Linked DNA regions of Homo sapiens. The protein of the gene in region 4 purifies or fractionates together with the protein of the main gene of each other region. This does not show direct contact. Each region holds a gene or a part of one and is shown on either strand. Other genes may lie near its edges.

Region 1 (4,129 bases), on a different chromosome or scaffold from region 4:
GGCGGACAGATCACCTGAGGTCAGGGGTTCAAGACCAGCCTGGCCAACATGGTGAAATCCCGTCTCTACTAACAATACAAAAATTAGCCGGGCATGGTAGTGGGCGCCCGTAATCCCCGCTACTTGGGAGGCTGAGGTAGAAGAATCGCTTGAACCCGGGAGGTAGAGACTGCAGTGAGCCGAGACCGCACCACTGCACCCCAGCCTGGGCAACCAGAGCAAGAGTCCGTCTCAAACAAAAAAAGGCAAGAAGAAAAAATGCTAACAAGGTGACTCTGAAAAAGCTAGAGATCATTAAAGCACTGTGCTGCCGTGACAGACTCCATTCTTCAGGGAGCGGTGGGGGGAGGTGACAGCTCACAGGGACCGTGGCACGCATCACATTCAACTGAGTGTTTAAAACCTAATACCGCCTGTACATAGACTAGAAGGGGAAATTGGAGAAGGCTGCCAACACAGCCCCGATCAATTTCCAATCCCTGAGGAGAGCGGAAAACCTATGAGACCCCCCCTCACCCGGGCCCTCCTCTATTCAGGCCCATCAACCTTACACGGCCCCCTTTAAATCGACCCTTCGGAGGACTGGTGAGAGTGATGTGGGGAAATACCCTCCTTGGGGCAGAATAAACAAGCATGACGTCAGGGCTGAACGCCCGCGTCTAGCTTCTCTCCTTGGGCCTAGCCCTTGCGTGAGCAAACAATAGGCGCCTTCCAGGCTGGAAAGCCGAGCGCCGCCCGGGAGCCCCGCAAAACCCGGGAGGGGTTGCACAGGGACCTTTTGAAGGAGCAAGGGCGGAGGCTGCAGGCACAGAGCGCGGGCCCGCCTCCCCGCAGCCTGAGCCCTCGGCCAGCGGGCGCTCCAAGGTCAGTGCCCGAGGCCGGTCCGCAGCCGCTGCGAGACCGGGTAAGATGGACCGGGCACTTCGGGGCGGCCCCCCGAGCCTGGAGCCACCGAGCCCGGAGTCCCCACGGGCCGGCCTCAATGTCACCTGGCTCCGAGGCCCATTCGGTGCTTCCTGCTGAAGCCGAGCGGCCAGGCTGCGGACGTGCAGACTTGATGGCTCCCGGCCCCCCGACCCGGCCCGGCCTGGCGGCGCCGCACCGGCCACCTCCTGTCTCACCTGCCGCCACTGCCCGCCGCGACCGCCCTCTACACCCGGTGTCCCGCGACCGGAAGAGAGCAAGGCCGCGCCGCGGAGCACCACGGGATCGAGGAAGACTCCGCCCGCACCCGGCCGCACGGAGGTCACCGTGGAGCGGAAAAGGGTAGCGCTGCGAACGTCGTAAAATGCCGGGCCGGGCTGCTTTCCGGCAGGCGTTGGAGAGGCTGCTTTCCGGCGGCGCCGGGCGAGAAGCGCGACTGGAGTCTGGGGCTGCGGCTTCCCAGAGGCGCGAGTCGCTTTTCCAGGAGCCGAGGCCCAAACGGGGCCGGGCCTGAAGGGTCCCCCGCCAGCCCGCGGCCGCGCCATCAATCGCCGCCGCCTCGTCCCGCTTCTCGGCTGAGGCGCCGCGCGGCCAGGCAGCGGGTCCAGGCCTCAGCCGCGCGCCCAGGGGCCTCCGGGGCCCTCCCGGGTCAGCATGCCCGGGGTGAAACTGACCACCCAGGCCTACTGCAAGATGGTGCTGCACGGCGCCAAGTACCCGCACTGCGCCGTCAACGGGCTCCTGGTGGCCGAGAAGCAGAAGCCGCGTAAGGAGCACCTCCCCCTGGGCGGCCCCGGCGCCCACCACACCCTCTTCGTGGACTGCATCCCCCTCTTCCACGGCACCCTGGCCCTCGCCCCCATGCTGGAGGTGGCTCTCACCCTGGTAAGCGCGGAAAGGGCCCCTTCCCCTTGCAGGCAGCCTGGCCTCCCCTCAGTCAGCAGAGAGGAAGCTGGCCCAGCGGTCGCCCTCCAGCAGGCTCCTAGGACCCGCTCCCTAGGGTTGCCGTGGCCAGGAATGGGGTGATCCACGATGGCGCTTGGGTCTTGGCGCTGAATAAATAGCGTCCCGTAGTAGCAGCGACTTTAACCGTCGTGGATGCTTTTAGAGGCACTTTAAGGCGACGAGTTATACGTTAGTTTCCTGAAATCAGTAGCCTTTGTAGAAACAAGTCATCGTTCACTTGGTGGGGATTCGACAGAGTTTCCCTTGAGGATTTCGAGTTGCAGGAAGTGTTCACGTTGTTGGGACATTAATCGCTAGGATTTGGTTCTTCGCACCTTCGCAGAGCCGATTCCTTATCTGGCAAAGTGTAAATGCTTCTTTGGCTGTCGGTACTCGGGCACCCCGGAGCTCAGACACTTGTAGAAAGGTAGTTGCATGGTCAGATCTGTGTGATGCATCTTAGGCCTGGCTCCCCTTGATTGAATGTGCCTGAGCTTTGTGTAAAGAGAATTTGTTCCCGTTAATGGTTAACAACTTATCTAGAATGTTTCCATGGCTTTTAAAAGCTAAAGAATTTCTGTGGGGCCGGGCGCGGTGGCTGACCCCTGTAATCCTAGCACTTTGGGAGGCCGAGGCAGGCGGATCACCTGAGGTCAGAAGTTTGAGACCAGCCTGACCAACATGGTGAAACCCCTTCTCTACTAAAAATACAAAACTTAGCCGGGCGTGGTGGCGGGCGCCTGTCATCCCAGCCACTCGGGAGGCTGAGGCAAGAGAATCGCTTGAACCCAGGAGGCAGAGGTTGCAGTGAGCCGAGATCACGCCACTGCACTCCAGCCTGGGTGACAGAGCAAGACTCCGTCTCAAAAAAAAAAAAAAAAAAAAAAAAACGAATTTCTGTGACATTAAACAGCAGGAGCAGACGATCTGTCCAACACGCTTTTATGTTTTTGTTTGCAATGACAGCTTTATTGAAGTACAGTGGGAAAAAAGATGTAGCATGCAGGTAGACTAGTTGGTAAGTGAATTTTAGGCAGTAGCTTTTCAGTTCCGGTGATCAATGAAGGGAAAAAGACCATCTATAAATTCCATCGAGTTGTTAAAACCTGAAGGAAAAGTAAACTGTAGCTTCAGACCTGCATACCTGAGCTGAGGTGCTGTTTGTTTTTCATTTAAGAATAAACTGTGATGCTAAAAAATAGTAGCTAATTGATGTAAGAAGTAGCTAAGCTTGAGAAGGTGTAAGTAGAATTTCTTTATCTGTGTCCCTCCTCCACCAAGTAAAACGAAGCCATTTCATAATCTACCATTTATAACTTAACTAATTATGACACCCAAGTCAGTTCTGGGCAAGCAAGAAGTATCTCTGGGCAAAGAGTCCTGGCGTAAGGTTCCTGGGCACATCTTTGAGTGCCTGTTAAAGTTAAACTTCATATCATTTCCGGGTAGGATTCAGATGATTATAATACTTAGATGATATTTATAAAACTAAGTATTTTAGCTCTTGAAGATATCTGCTGTCATTACTGAAACACCACTGGGGAGTGTGTGTGTGTGTTTTAATCCAGGTCTTTCCAACCATCTTTTTGTTTTTTTGAGATGGAGTTTCGCTCTTGTCACCCAGCCTGGAGTGCAATGGCATGATCTCGGCTCACTGCAACTTCCACCTCCCAGATTCAGGTGATTCTTCTGCTTCAGCCTCCCAGGTAGCTGGGATTTCAGGCGTCCACCACCACACCCAGCTAATTTTTGTATTTTTAGTAGAGATGGGGTTTCACTGTGTTGACCAGGCTGGTCTTGAACTCCTTACCTCAAGTAATACGGCCACCTCCGCATCCCAAAGTGCTGGGATTCCAGGCATGAGCCACTGCGCTCAGCCTTTCCAACCATCTTAATTGTTCTGTTGTCAAGAGAATTATTGGATCTGTGAAATGCATTGACTTGCAGGGAGCTAGATTCATCAGTAGCATTTATGCGGGATTATTCACTTTTCTAATAAATGTTTTTGAGTATCTGCTTTGTGCCAGGCCCGTGCTGAGGAGGGATATGGCTGTGGATGAAACACAGTACCTGCTTAGCACTTGAAGGTGCAGCAAGCCAGCAAGCACAGCACCTAAACCTCACAGGCGGAGCTTAGTAAAAAAGTGGCAAGGGATTCGAGAGAAGTCAGCCAGCCTAGGCTTGGGCAATCAGGGCAGTCAGGTTGCCCAGAGAAAGGAACATGCAGGCAGCGGGCCAGCCTTTGACCCTCAGGAGGTGG
Region 2 (3,500 bases), on a different chromosome or scaffold from region 4:
GCCTCGGGCCAGTAGGGTGGCCTGGACCCAGCTCATGCCTCTGCTTGTCAGACAATCACCTGGCCCAAAAGAAGATTCAGCATTAGCCTGGCACCTTACAGATGCTAACAGACGCAAGGGCCCCGCAGGGTCGAGGGCACACTCCAGATTATGTGGCTCACTCACCAGCCCCAATGTTTACCTTACCCAAGAAACAGGCTGATGACTCAAAGACTTTGTTCTTGGGACAGCACCCTAATCCTGCTGCCCCAGGGGCGTGATCATAGCTCAATGCAGCCTCCAACTTCTGGGCCCAAGTGATCCTCCAGCCCCAGAGCGTCGAGAAGCTGGGACTACAGACGCGTGCCACCATGCCCAGCTAATTTGAAAATAGTTTGCAGAGACCCAGGGTCTTGCTGTGTTGCCCAGGCTGGTCTCGAACTGTTGGCTTCAAGTGATCCTCCCATCTCTGTCTCCAAAAGTGCTGGGATCATGGGTGTGAGCCAGCACTCCTAGCCACTACAATCTAATTTTACAAAATCTGTGTCACTCCAACAAGAATCCCTGTACCTGGCCAGGCGCGGTGGCTCACGCCTGTAATCACAACATTCTGGGAGGCTGAGGCGGGCGGATCACTCGAAGTTGGGAGTTCGAGACCAGCCTGACCAACATGGAGAAACCCCATCGCTACTAAAAATACAAAAAATTAGCCGAGCATGGTGGCGCACGCCTGTAATTCCAGCTACTGGGAAGGCTGACGTAGGAGAATTGCTTGAACCCAGGAGGCAGAGGTTGCAGTGAGCCAAGATGATGCCATTACACCTCAGCCTGGGGAACAACAGCAAAACTCCATCTCCAGAAAAAAAAAAAAAGAAGAAAAAAAAAAAAGAAAGAAACCCTGTACCCATTAGCACTCAATTTCCCTTCACTCCCAACCCCAAGAAACCACTCATCCACTGTCTCTATAGATCTCCCTATGCCGGCCATTTCATACAAATGGAATCTGGAATCACAAGTGCTCCTTTATGATTGGTTTCCTTCACTTGACATGTTTTTTTTCTTTTTTCTTTTTTTCTGAGATGCAGTCTCGCTCTGTCACCCAGGCTGAAGTGCAATAGTGCCATCTCGGCTCACTGCAACCTTCGCCTCCCGGATTCAAGCGATTCCCATGCCTCAGCATCCCGAGTAGCTGGGATTACAGGTACATGCCACCACGCCCGGCTAATTTTTGTATTTTTAGTAGAGATGGGGTTTTATCACGTTGGCCAGGCTGGTCTCGAACTCCTGACCTCAAGTGATCCGCCAGCCTCAGCCTCCCCAAGTGCTGGGATTACAGGCGTGAGCCACCGCACCTGGCCCACTGACGTGTTTTCAAGGTTCATGCATAGATTTTTTTTTAATTTTTATTATTTTTATTTTTAGACAGGATCTTGCTTTGTTTCCCAGGCTGGAGTGCAGTGGCACAATCTCAGCTCACTGCAACCTCTGCTTTCCGGGCTCACGATTCTCCTGCCTCAGCCTCCTGAGTAGCTGGGACTATAGGTGTGTGCCACTGCATCCAGCTAATTTATAGATTTTTTTGTAGAGATGGGGTTTCGCCATGTTGCCAAGCTGGTCTCAAACTCCTTACCTTGTGATCCGTCCGCCTCAGCCTCCCGAAGTGCTGGGATTATAGTCGTGAGCCACCGCACCCGGGCTTTTTTTTTTTTGAGATGGAGTTTCATTCTTGTTGCCCAGGCTGGATTGCAATGGCATGATCTTGGCTCACTGCAACCTCTGCCTCCCGGGTTCAAGTGATTCTCCTGCCTCAGCCTCCCAAGTAGCTGGGATTACAGGCACCCGCCACCATACCCAGCTAATTTTTGTATTTTTAGTAGAGATAGGGTTTCACCATGTTGGCCAGGCTGGTCTTGAACTCCTGACATCAAGTGATCCACCCACCTTGGCCTCCCAAATTGCTAGGATTACAATCATGCCCGGCCAATTCCACTGTTTTTGGAATGGAATATAACCAGGTTTTGTATGGCTATAACCATATTTTATTTATGCATTCATCAATTGATGGACATTTGGGGTTGTTTGCCAAATGTTTTTGACTGTTATAACTACTACTGCCATGAACATTCGTGTAGAAGTTTTATGTGAACACATGTTTATACTTCTCTTGGGTATATACTTAGGAGTCAAACTGCTGAGACATATGGTAACTACATGTTTAACATTTTTAGGAACTGCCAGACTGTTTTTGGGGATGACTGCACCATTTCACATTCCCATCGGCAACGTACAGTTGACCCTTCATCAACAAAGGCTTGAACAGCATAAGTCCATTTATACGTGGATTTTTTTTTTTTTTTTCAGTAAAAGTTATGGCTGTACGTGGTGGCTAACGCCTGTAATCACAGCACTTCGGGAGGTCGAAGCAGGCAGATCACCTGAGGCCAGGAGTTCGAGAGCAGCCTGGCCAACATGGGAGAGACCCTATCTCTACTAAAAAAACAAAAAAACAAAAATTAGCCAGGCTGGGGGCACACTCCTGCAGTCCCCAGCTACTCAGGAGGCGGAGGCAGGAGAATCACTTGAACCCAGGAGGCAGAAGCTGCAGTGAGCCAAGATCGTGCCACTGCACTCCAGCCTGGGCGAAAGAGGAAGACTCTGTCTGAAAAATAAGAATAAGACCAGGTGTGGTGGCTCACGCCTGTAATCCCAGCACTTTGGGAGGCCAGGCAGGATAATCACTTGAGGTCAAGAGTTCAAGACCAACCAACCAACGTGGCAAAACCCCATCTCTACTAAAAATACAAAAATTAGCCAGGCTCCTTTTGCCGGTGGCGGCAAGCATGGAGAGGATGCCATGAAGGCCTCGGGCACACTACAAGAGTACAAGGTGGTGGGTTGCTGCCTGCTCACTCCCAAATGCCACACACCACCCCTCTACCACATGCGAATCTTTGCACCTGATCATGTCGTTGCCAAGTCCCACTTCTGGTACTTTGTATCTCAGCTAAAGAAGATGAAGAAGTCTTCGGGGAGACTGTCAACTGTGGGCAGGCATTCGAGAAGTACCGCCTGCGGGTGAAGAACTTCGGCATCTGGCTGCGCTACAAACTCCCAGAGCAGCACCCACAACATGTACCAGGAATATTGGGACCTGACCACCACGGGCGCTGTCACCCAGTGCTACCGAGACATGGGCGCCCGGTACCCCACCTGGACCCATTCCATCCAGATCATGAAGATGGAGGAGATAGCAGCCAGCAAGTCCCACCGGCTGGCCGTCAAGCAGTTCCAAGACTCCAAGATCAAGTTCCCGCTGCCCCACCAGGTCCTGCGCCATCAGCACAAGCCACGCTTCACCACCAAAAGGCCCAACACCTTCTTCTAGGGGTAGGGCCCTCACCCAGGTGTGCCCCACGTAAACTCAGGAACGCCCCGGTAAAAAAAAAAAAAATTAGCCAGTCATGGTGGTACATGCCTGTAATCCCAGCTACTCAGGAGGCTGAGGTGGGAGAATTGCTTGC
Region 3 (3,500 bases), on a different chromosome or scaffold from region 4:
ATGGCGAAACCCTGTCTCTATTAAAAATACAAAAATTACCTGGGCATGGTGGTGCATGCATGTAATCCCAGCCACTCCGGAGGCTGAGGCATGAGAATCGTTTGAATCTGGGAGGTGGAGGTTGCAGTGAGCTGAGGTTGTGCCACTGCACTCCAGCCTGGATGACAGAGCAAGATTCTGTCTCAAAAATAAAATACAGTTGGCAGTTTGTTTCTGACTTTAACAGCCTTCTCTCTTCTCTTGGTATGCCTCCTCTAATATTAGGTTCCATCAGTAAACCTGTAAAGAATTATATACATCGGCCGGGCACGGTGGCTCACGCCTGTAATCCCAGCACTTTGGGAGGCCGAGGTGGGCGGATCACGAGGTTAAGAGATCGAGACCATCCTGGCCAACATGGTGAAACCCATCTCTACTAAAAATACAATAATTGGCATGGTGATGCATGCCTGTAATCCCAGCTACTTGGGAGGCTGAGGCAGGAGAATCACTTGAATCTGGGAGGCGGAGGTTGCAGTGAGCCAAGATTGTGCCACTGCACTCCAACCTGGCAATAAAGCAAGATTCCATCTCAAAAAAAAAAAAAATATATTATATACATCAAATATGAGTCAGGACATTTTTGAAACTTTACACAAAATGTAGGAATTTCGTGACAACTCTAAGGCCCTCTTTGCTTCAGCAAGTAGTTGCTGGAAGATTACACAGTTACATGACATGCATTGAGTATCACTTTTTTCTGGAACTATTTCTGTTTTATTTCAGAACCTGTCTGAGAAACTCTCTGAACAAGAATTACAATTTCGTCGTCTCAGTCAAGAGCAAGTTGACAACTTTACTCTGGATATAAATACTGCCTATGCCAGACTCAGAGGAATCGAACAGGCTGTTCAGAGTAAGCATAAGCTATGTTTATCTTACAGATAATTTTCCTCAGCATAATTTATCAAAATAATTTTATAGGGAAAATGGGGTACATGTACTGACATCAGGACATAAAAATACTAATCACTCTACTTAATTGCAGTTTTTGCCATTAAAAGTAATGGCAAAATCTATATAACTAGAAATTTATACCTTGTATGACAAACACAAAATCACCATTTACAAGGCTATTTACCCAGTATCCTTTGGCTATGTCGCATGTGCCTGGGTGGTAAGGGCTAGGGGTCAGTGTGGTCCCATGCTTGCCTTCCACAGACTTGGTGGGTTATCTGGAGGTGGTGATTTGCCGAGTCCAACTACCAAATGGACAGTATTTATGCTGAGGCCTCCATGTGCCACATTGAAAGAGAAATGTCATGACAATGAGGGTATTAATAAAATGGGTTTTTTTAGGATGTTATGGAATCTTTTTTTGTCACATAACAATAAAAATAAATTCAATACTCATGGAATTTCAAGATCCAGTAGTCTGTTAAGTTCGTTTGAAGTCTCCCATTTCTTTTTTTTTTTTTTTTTTTTTTTTGAGACAGAGTCTTGCTCTGTCGCCCAGGGTAGAGTGCAGTGGTGTGATATCGACTCACTGCAGCCTCCGCCTCCTGGGTTCAAGCGATTCTCCTGCCTCAGACTCCTGAGTAGCTGGGAATACAGGTGCGTGCCACCACGCCTGGCTAGGTTTTGTATTTTTAGTAGACACAGGGTTTCACCATGTTGGCCAGGCTAGTCCTGAACTCCTGACCACAAGTGATCCACCCACCTCGGCCTCCCAAATTGCTGGGATTACAGGCATGAGCCATTGTGCCTGGCCCTGAAGTCTCCCATTTCTTTGCAGAAAATTTCTCATGGCCTTAGCGTTAAGTCTTAGCCTAATTTAAATAATATGTTTCTTTCTCAACTAGTAAAGGTAAAAATATGTGGATTAGATATCATGCAGATGTGAATGACTTCTGACTTTGATATGAAGAGGCCAGCTAGGAAAATACACCAGAAATAAGTGGTGGGGGTGGGGTTGTAAGAAAGTCTCTCTGGCCTCATCTTGCACATGTGTAGATGTAGCTTGTTGAATGTGCATCAGTTCTGTGGATGTATGTTGTCAGATGGAGAGAAAAATGTTTGGCTTTGCCTTTTTTTCTTTGTAGGCCATGCAGTTGCTGAAGAGGAAGCCAGAAAAGCCCACCAACTCTGGCTTTCAGTGGAGGCATTAAAGTACAGCATGAAGACCTCATCTGCAGAAACACCTACTATCCCGCTGGGTAGTGCAGTTGAGGCCATCAAAGCCAACTGTTCTGATAATGAATTCACCCAAGCTTTAACCGCAGCTATCCCTCCAGAGTCCCTGACCCGTGGGGTGTACAGTGAAGAGACCCTTAGAGCCCGTTTCTATGCTGTTCAAAAACTGGCCCGAAGGGTAGCAATGATTGATGAAACCAGAAATAGCTTGTACCAGTACTTCCTCTCCTACCTACAGTCCCTGCTCCTATTCCCACCTCAGCAACTGAAGCCGCCCCCAGAGCTCTGCCCTGAGGATATAAACACATTTAAATTACTGTCATATGCTTCCTATTGCATTGAGCATGGTGATCTGGAGCTAGCAGCAAAGTTTGTCAATCAGCTGAAGGGGGAATCCAGACGAGTGGCACAGGACTGGCTGAAGGAAGCCCGAATGACCCTAGAAACGAAACAGATAGTGGAAATCCTGACAGCATATGCCAGCGCCGTAGGAATAGGAACCACTCAGGTGCAGCCAGAGTGAGGTTTAGGAAGATTTTCATAAAGTCATATTTCATGTCAAAGGAAATCAGCAGTGATAGATGAAGGGTTCGCAGCGAGAGTCCCGGACTTGTCTAGAAATGAGCAGGTTTACAAGTACTGTTCTAAATGTTAACACCTGTTGCATTTATATTCTTTCCATTTGCTATCATGTCAGTGAACGCCAGGAGTGCTTTCTTTGCAACTTGTGTAACATTTTCTGTTTTTTCAGGTTTTACTGATGAGGCTTGTGAGGCCAATCAAAATAATGTTTGTGATCTCTACTACTGTTGATTTTGCCCTCGGAGCAAACTGAATAAAGCAACAAGATGAAAACTGAGTATCTTATCCCTTTTCAAAAAGTACAGTTCTGGCCAGGTGCAGTAGCTCACGCCTGTAATCCCAGCACTTTGGGAGGCTGAGGCGGGTGGATCACCTGAGGTTGGGAGTTCGAGACCAGCCTGACCAACATGGAGAAACCCATCTCTACTAAAAATACAAAATTAAGCTGGGCGTGGTGGCGAATGCCTGTAATCCCAGCTACTCGGGAGGCTGAGGCAGGAGAATCGCTTGAACCTGGGAGGTGGAGGTTGCAGTGAGTCAGGATCGCACCATCGCACTCCAGCCTGGGCAACAAGAGCAAAACTCCGTCTCAAAAAAAAAAAATTCTAGTTTGTTGTATGTACAGAAAATATCCTTGAGAAACAACAACAGCAGAAGTAGGAACTTCTAGCTCACAGTTTCCAGGCTGTGAATTGCGTCACCAGAAGTCCACAGCCTGCTTTTTGCCTTTGAAGGTTTTGGTGAAT
Region 4 (3,500 bases):
CTTGGTTTTTTTTGATGCAGGCACTTATAGGTATAAACTTCCGTCTTAATATCCTACAGGTTTCAGTATGTTGTGTTTTCATTATCATTTGTTAAAAGAAGTTTTTCAATTCCTTTCTTAATTTCTTTATTGACTGATTGGTCATCCAGGAGCATATTGTTTAATTTCCACGTATTTGTGCAGTTTCCAAACTTCCTCTTGTTACTGACTTCTATTTAATTCCATTGTGGTCAGAGAAGATGTTTAATATTATTTCAATTTTTTGAATGTTTTAAGGCTTGTTTTGTTACCTAAAATATGGTCTATCCTTGAGAATGATCCATATGCTGAAGAAAAGAATGTGTATTCTGTAGCTGATGAATAGAATGTTCTATAAATATCTATTATGTTCATTTGGTCTATAGTATAGATTAAGTCCAATGTTACTTTGTTGATTTTCCAACTGAAAGATCGGTCCAATGCTGAAAGCAGAGTGTTAAACTCTCCAGCTATTATTATATTGGAGACTATCTATTTCTTTAGCTCTAATAATATTTTCCTTACATATCTGGGTGTGCCAGTATTGGATGCATATATATTTATATTGTTATATTCTCTTGCTGAATTGACCCCTTTATCATTATACAGTGACCTCCTTTGTGTCTTCTTACAGTTTTTGTCTCAAGATCTATTTTGTCTGAAATAAGTATAGCTACTGTTGCTCCTTTTCGGTTTCCATTGGGATGGAATGTCTCTTTTTATCCCTTCATTTTTAGTCTGCATGTGTCTTTATAGGTGGAGTGTGTTTCTTGTGGGAAATAGATCATTAGGTCTTGTTTTTTCATCCATTCAGCCACTCTATGTACTTTGATTGGAAAGTTTAATCCATTTACATTCAATATTATTATTAATAAGTAAGCACTTACTTCTGCCATTTTGTTATTTGTTTTCTGGTTGTTTTTTGATCTTCTCTTCCTTCTTTCTTTCCTTCCTGTCTTCCTTTTAGTGAAGGTGATTTTCTCTGGTGGTATGATTTAATTTCCTGCTTTTTGTTTTTCATATATCTACTGTATATTTTTTGATTCAAGGTTACTATGAGGCTTGCAAATACTATCTTATAGCCCATTATTGTAAGCTGATAACAACTTAACTCTGCTTGCATTAACAAACAAGTAAGCAAAAAAAGAAAACTAATAAAAACTCTACATTTTAACTTTGTCTCCCACTTTTTAACTTTTTATTGTTTCTATTTATAACTTTGTTTTTACTGTCTATGTCTTGAAAAGTTGTTGTAGTTATCATTTTTATTGGTTCATCTTTTAGTCTTTCTACTTAAGATAAGAGTACTTTACATACCACAGTTGCACTGTTGTGATATTGTGTTTTTCCATGTACCTACTATAATCAGTGAATTTTGTATATTCAGATGATTTCTTATTGCTCATTAATGTCCTTTACTTTCAGATTAAAGAGCTGTTTTTAGCAATTCTTATAGGACTGATGTGCTGTTGATTAAATCCCTCAGCTTTTATTTGTCTGGGAAAGTCTTTATTTCCCCTTCATGTTTGAAGGATATTTTCATCAGATACGCTATTCTAAGGTAAAGGGTTTTTTGCTTCAGCAACTTAAATATGCCATGCCACTCTCTCCTGGCCTATAAGATTTCCACTTGGGGAACATCCCAAGCCCAGTAACGCTGTGGGTCTGCTACCAGACATATTGGAGCTCCACTGTATATTATTTGCTTCTTTTCTCTTGCTGCTTTTAGGATCCTTTCATTATCCTTGAACTTTGGGGGTTTGATTATTAAGTGCCTTAAGGTAGTCTTCTTTGGCTTAAATCTACTTGGTGTTCTATAACCTTCTTGTACTTGGATATTGATATCTTTCCCTAGGTTTGGGAAGTTCTCTGTTATTATCCCTTGGAATAAACTTTCTACCCCTATCTATTTCTCTACTTCCTCTTTAAGGCCAGTAACTCTTACATTTGCCCTTTTGAGGCTATTTTTTAGACCTTACAAGTGTGCTTCATTGTTTCTTATTCTTTTTTCTTTTGTATCCTCTGACTTCTGTGACCCCTCTGATTCTGTTATTAATATACTCTGATGCATTCCTCAGTATGTGAATTTCATTTTTTAACTCCAGAATTTCTGCTTGATCCTTCTTAATTATTTCTATCTCTTAGTTTATCTGATAGAATTCTGAATTTCTTTTCTGTGTTATCTTGAATTTCTTTGAGTTTCCTCAACACAGGTATTTTGGATTCTCTGTCTAAAAGGTCACATATTTCTGTTTCTCCAGGATTGGTCCCTGGTGCCTTATTTACCTCAACTGGTGAGGTCATGTTTTCCTGAATGGTCTTGATACTTGTGGATGTTCATCAGTGTCTGGGCATAGAAGATTTAGGTATTTATTGTAGTCTTCATGGTCTGGGTTTATACCCATCCTTCTTGGGAAGGCTTTCCAGGTATTCAAAAGGACTTGGGTGCTGTGACCTAAGCTCTATCTGCATGGGGGACATCCCAAGCCCAGTAATGCTGTGGGTCTTGCAGACTCGTAGAGGTACCCACCTGGTTGGTCTTGGATAAGATCTGAAAGATTTATCTGGATTACCAGACAGAGACTCTTATTCTTTTTCCTTACTTTCTCCCAAACAGAATCTCTTTCTCTATGCTGACCTTCCCAGACCTGGGAGTGGGGTGACACAAGCATCCCTGTGACCACCACCACTGGGACTGCATTGGGTCAGACCTGAAGCCAGCATAGCACTGAGTCTCACTCAAGGCCCACTGTAACCACTACATGGCTACTGCTTATGTTTTGTCAATGTCCTGGGGCTCTATAATCAGCATATGGTGAAGCCAGCCAAGCCTGTGACCTCCCCTTCAGGGCAGTGAGTTCCACCAGGCCCTAAATAGGTCTGGAGATGCTATCTTAGAACCAGGGACTGGAGTCAAAAACCTTATAAATCTACCTGGTGTTCTGTCCTCCTGTGGCTGAGCTGAAACTCGATTCATGAGACATAGTTCTTTCCACTCTTCCCTCCCCTTTCTGCAGGCAGAGGAGCTTCACCCTATGACCACTACCATCACAGGCCCACAGGGTCACTGCCAGACTACCACTGATTTTTGTTTAAGGCACAGGGGCTGTTTGGTCAGCTTGTCACGAATGCTGCCAGGCCTAGAACCTACCCTTTATGTCTGTGGGCTCCTATCTGGCTCAGGGCAGGTCCAGAAATGCTATCCAAGAGTCAAGGCCTAGAATCTTGGACCCCAAGAGCTGACCTTTACTTCTCTGTGGCCAGTCTGTTACATAAGGTGCAAGACAAAGCCCCCTTTACTTTTCTCTCTTCTTTTCTCAAGCAGAAGAATGTGCTGGGTTTCATCTGAAGCCCAAGACATCTCAGTCTCACCCAAGGCCCATAACATACTACCTAGGTATTGCTGCTTGTTATTCAGGGCCCAAGAATTCTTTCATCAGCAGGTAAGGGATCCTGTCAGGACTGTGTACTTATCTTCAAGA

What was found. The genes of interacting proteins can lie anywhere in the genome.
Region 1: the proteins of CLEC5A (region 4) and EMC8 purify together in Homo sapiens (affinity purification with mass spectrometry, with the first as the bait; one large-scale study listed by BioGRID). This does not show direct contact.
Region 2: the proteins of CLEC5A (region 4) and ECSIT purify together in Homo sapiens (affinity purification with mass spectrometry; 3 studies listed by BioGRID and IntAct, with this or other methods). This does not show direct contact.
Region 3: the proteins of CLEC5A (region 4) and IMMT purify together in Homo sapiens (affinity purification with mass spectrometry; 2 studies listed by BioGRID and IntAct, with this or other methods). This does not show direct contact.

The regions. Positions count from the first base shown.
Region 1 is NC_000016.10:85,796,745-85,800,873, reverse strand, and holds the start of EMC8 (ER membrane protein complex subunit 8), read left to right. Parts: upstream 1-1,329; 5' UTR 1,330-1,578; coding exon 1,579-1,809; exon of another isoform or gene 1,810-4,129. Other genes in the region: COX4I1 (cytochrome c oxidase subunit 4 isoform 1, mitochondrial), read right to left, coding at 990-1,006. UniProt on the Homo sapiens protein: Part of the endoplasmic reticulum membrane protein complex (EMC) that enables the energy-independent insertion into endoplasmic reticulum membranes of newly synthesized membrane proteins.
Region 2 is NC_000019.10:11,519,135-11,522,634, forward strand, and holds part of ECSIT (evolutionarily conserved signaling intermediate in Toll pathway, mitochondrial isoform 1 precursor), read right to left. Parts: intron 3,417-3,500; exon of another isoform or gene 2,797-3,416; intron 60-2,796; 5' UTR 37-59; coding exon 1-36.
Region 3 is NC_000002.12:86,143,463-86,146,962, reverse strand, and holds the end of IMMT (MICOS complex subunit MIC60), read left to right. Parts: intron 1-765; coding exon 766-895; coding exon of another isoform or gene 896-927; exon of another isoform or gene 928-1,403; intron 1,404-1,475; coding exon of another isoform or gene 1,476-1,593; intron 1,594-2,081; coding exon 2,082-2,695; 3' UTR 2,696-3,027; downstream 3,028-3,500. UniProt on the Homo sapiens protein: Component of the MICOS complex, a large protein complex of the mitochondrial inner membrane that plays crucial roles in the maintenance of crista junctions, inner membrane architecture, and formation of contact sites to the outer membrane.
Region 4 is NC_000007.14:141,936,975-141,940,474, reverse strand, and holds part of CLEC5A (C-type lectin domain family 5 member A), read left to right. Parts: intron 1-3,500.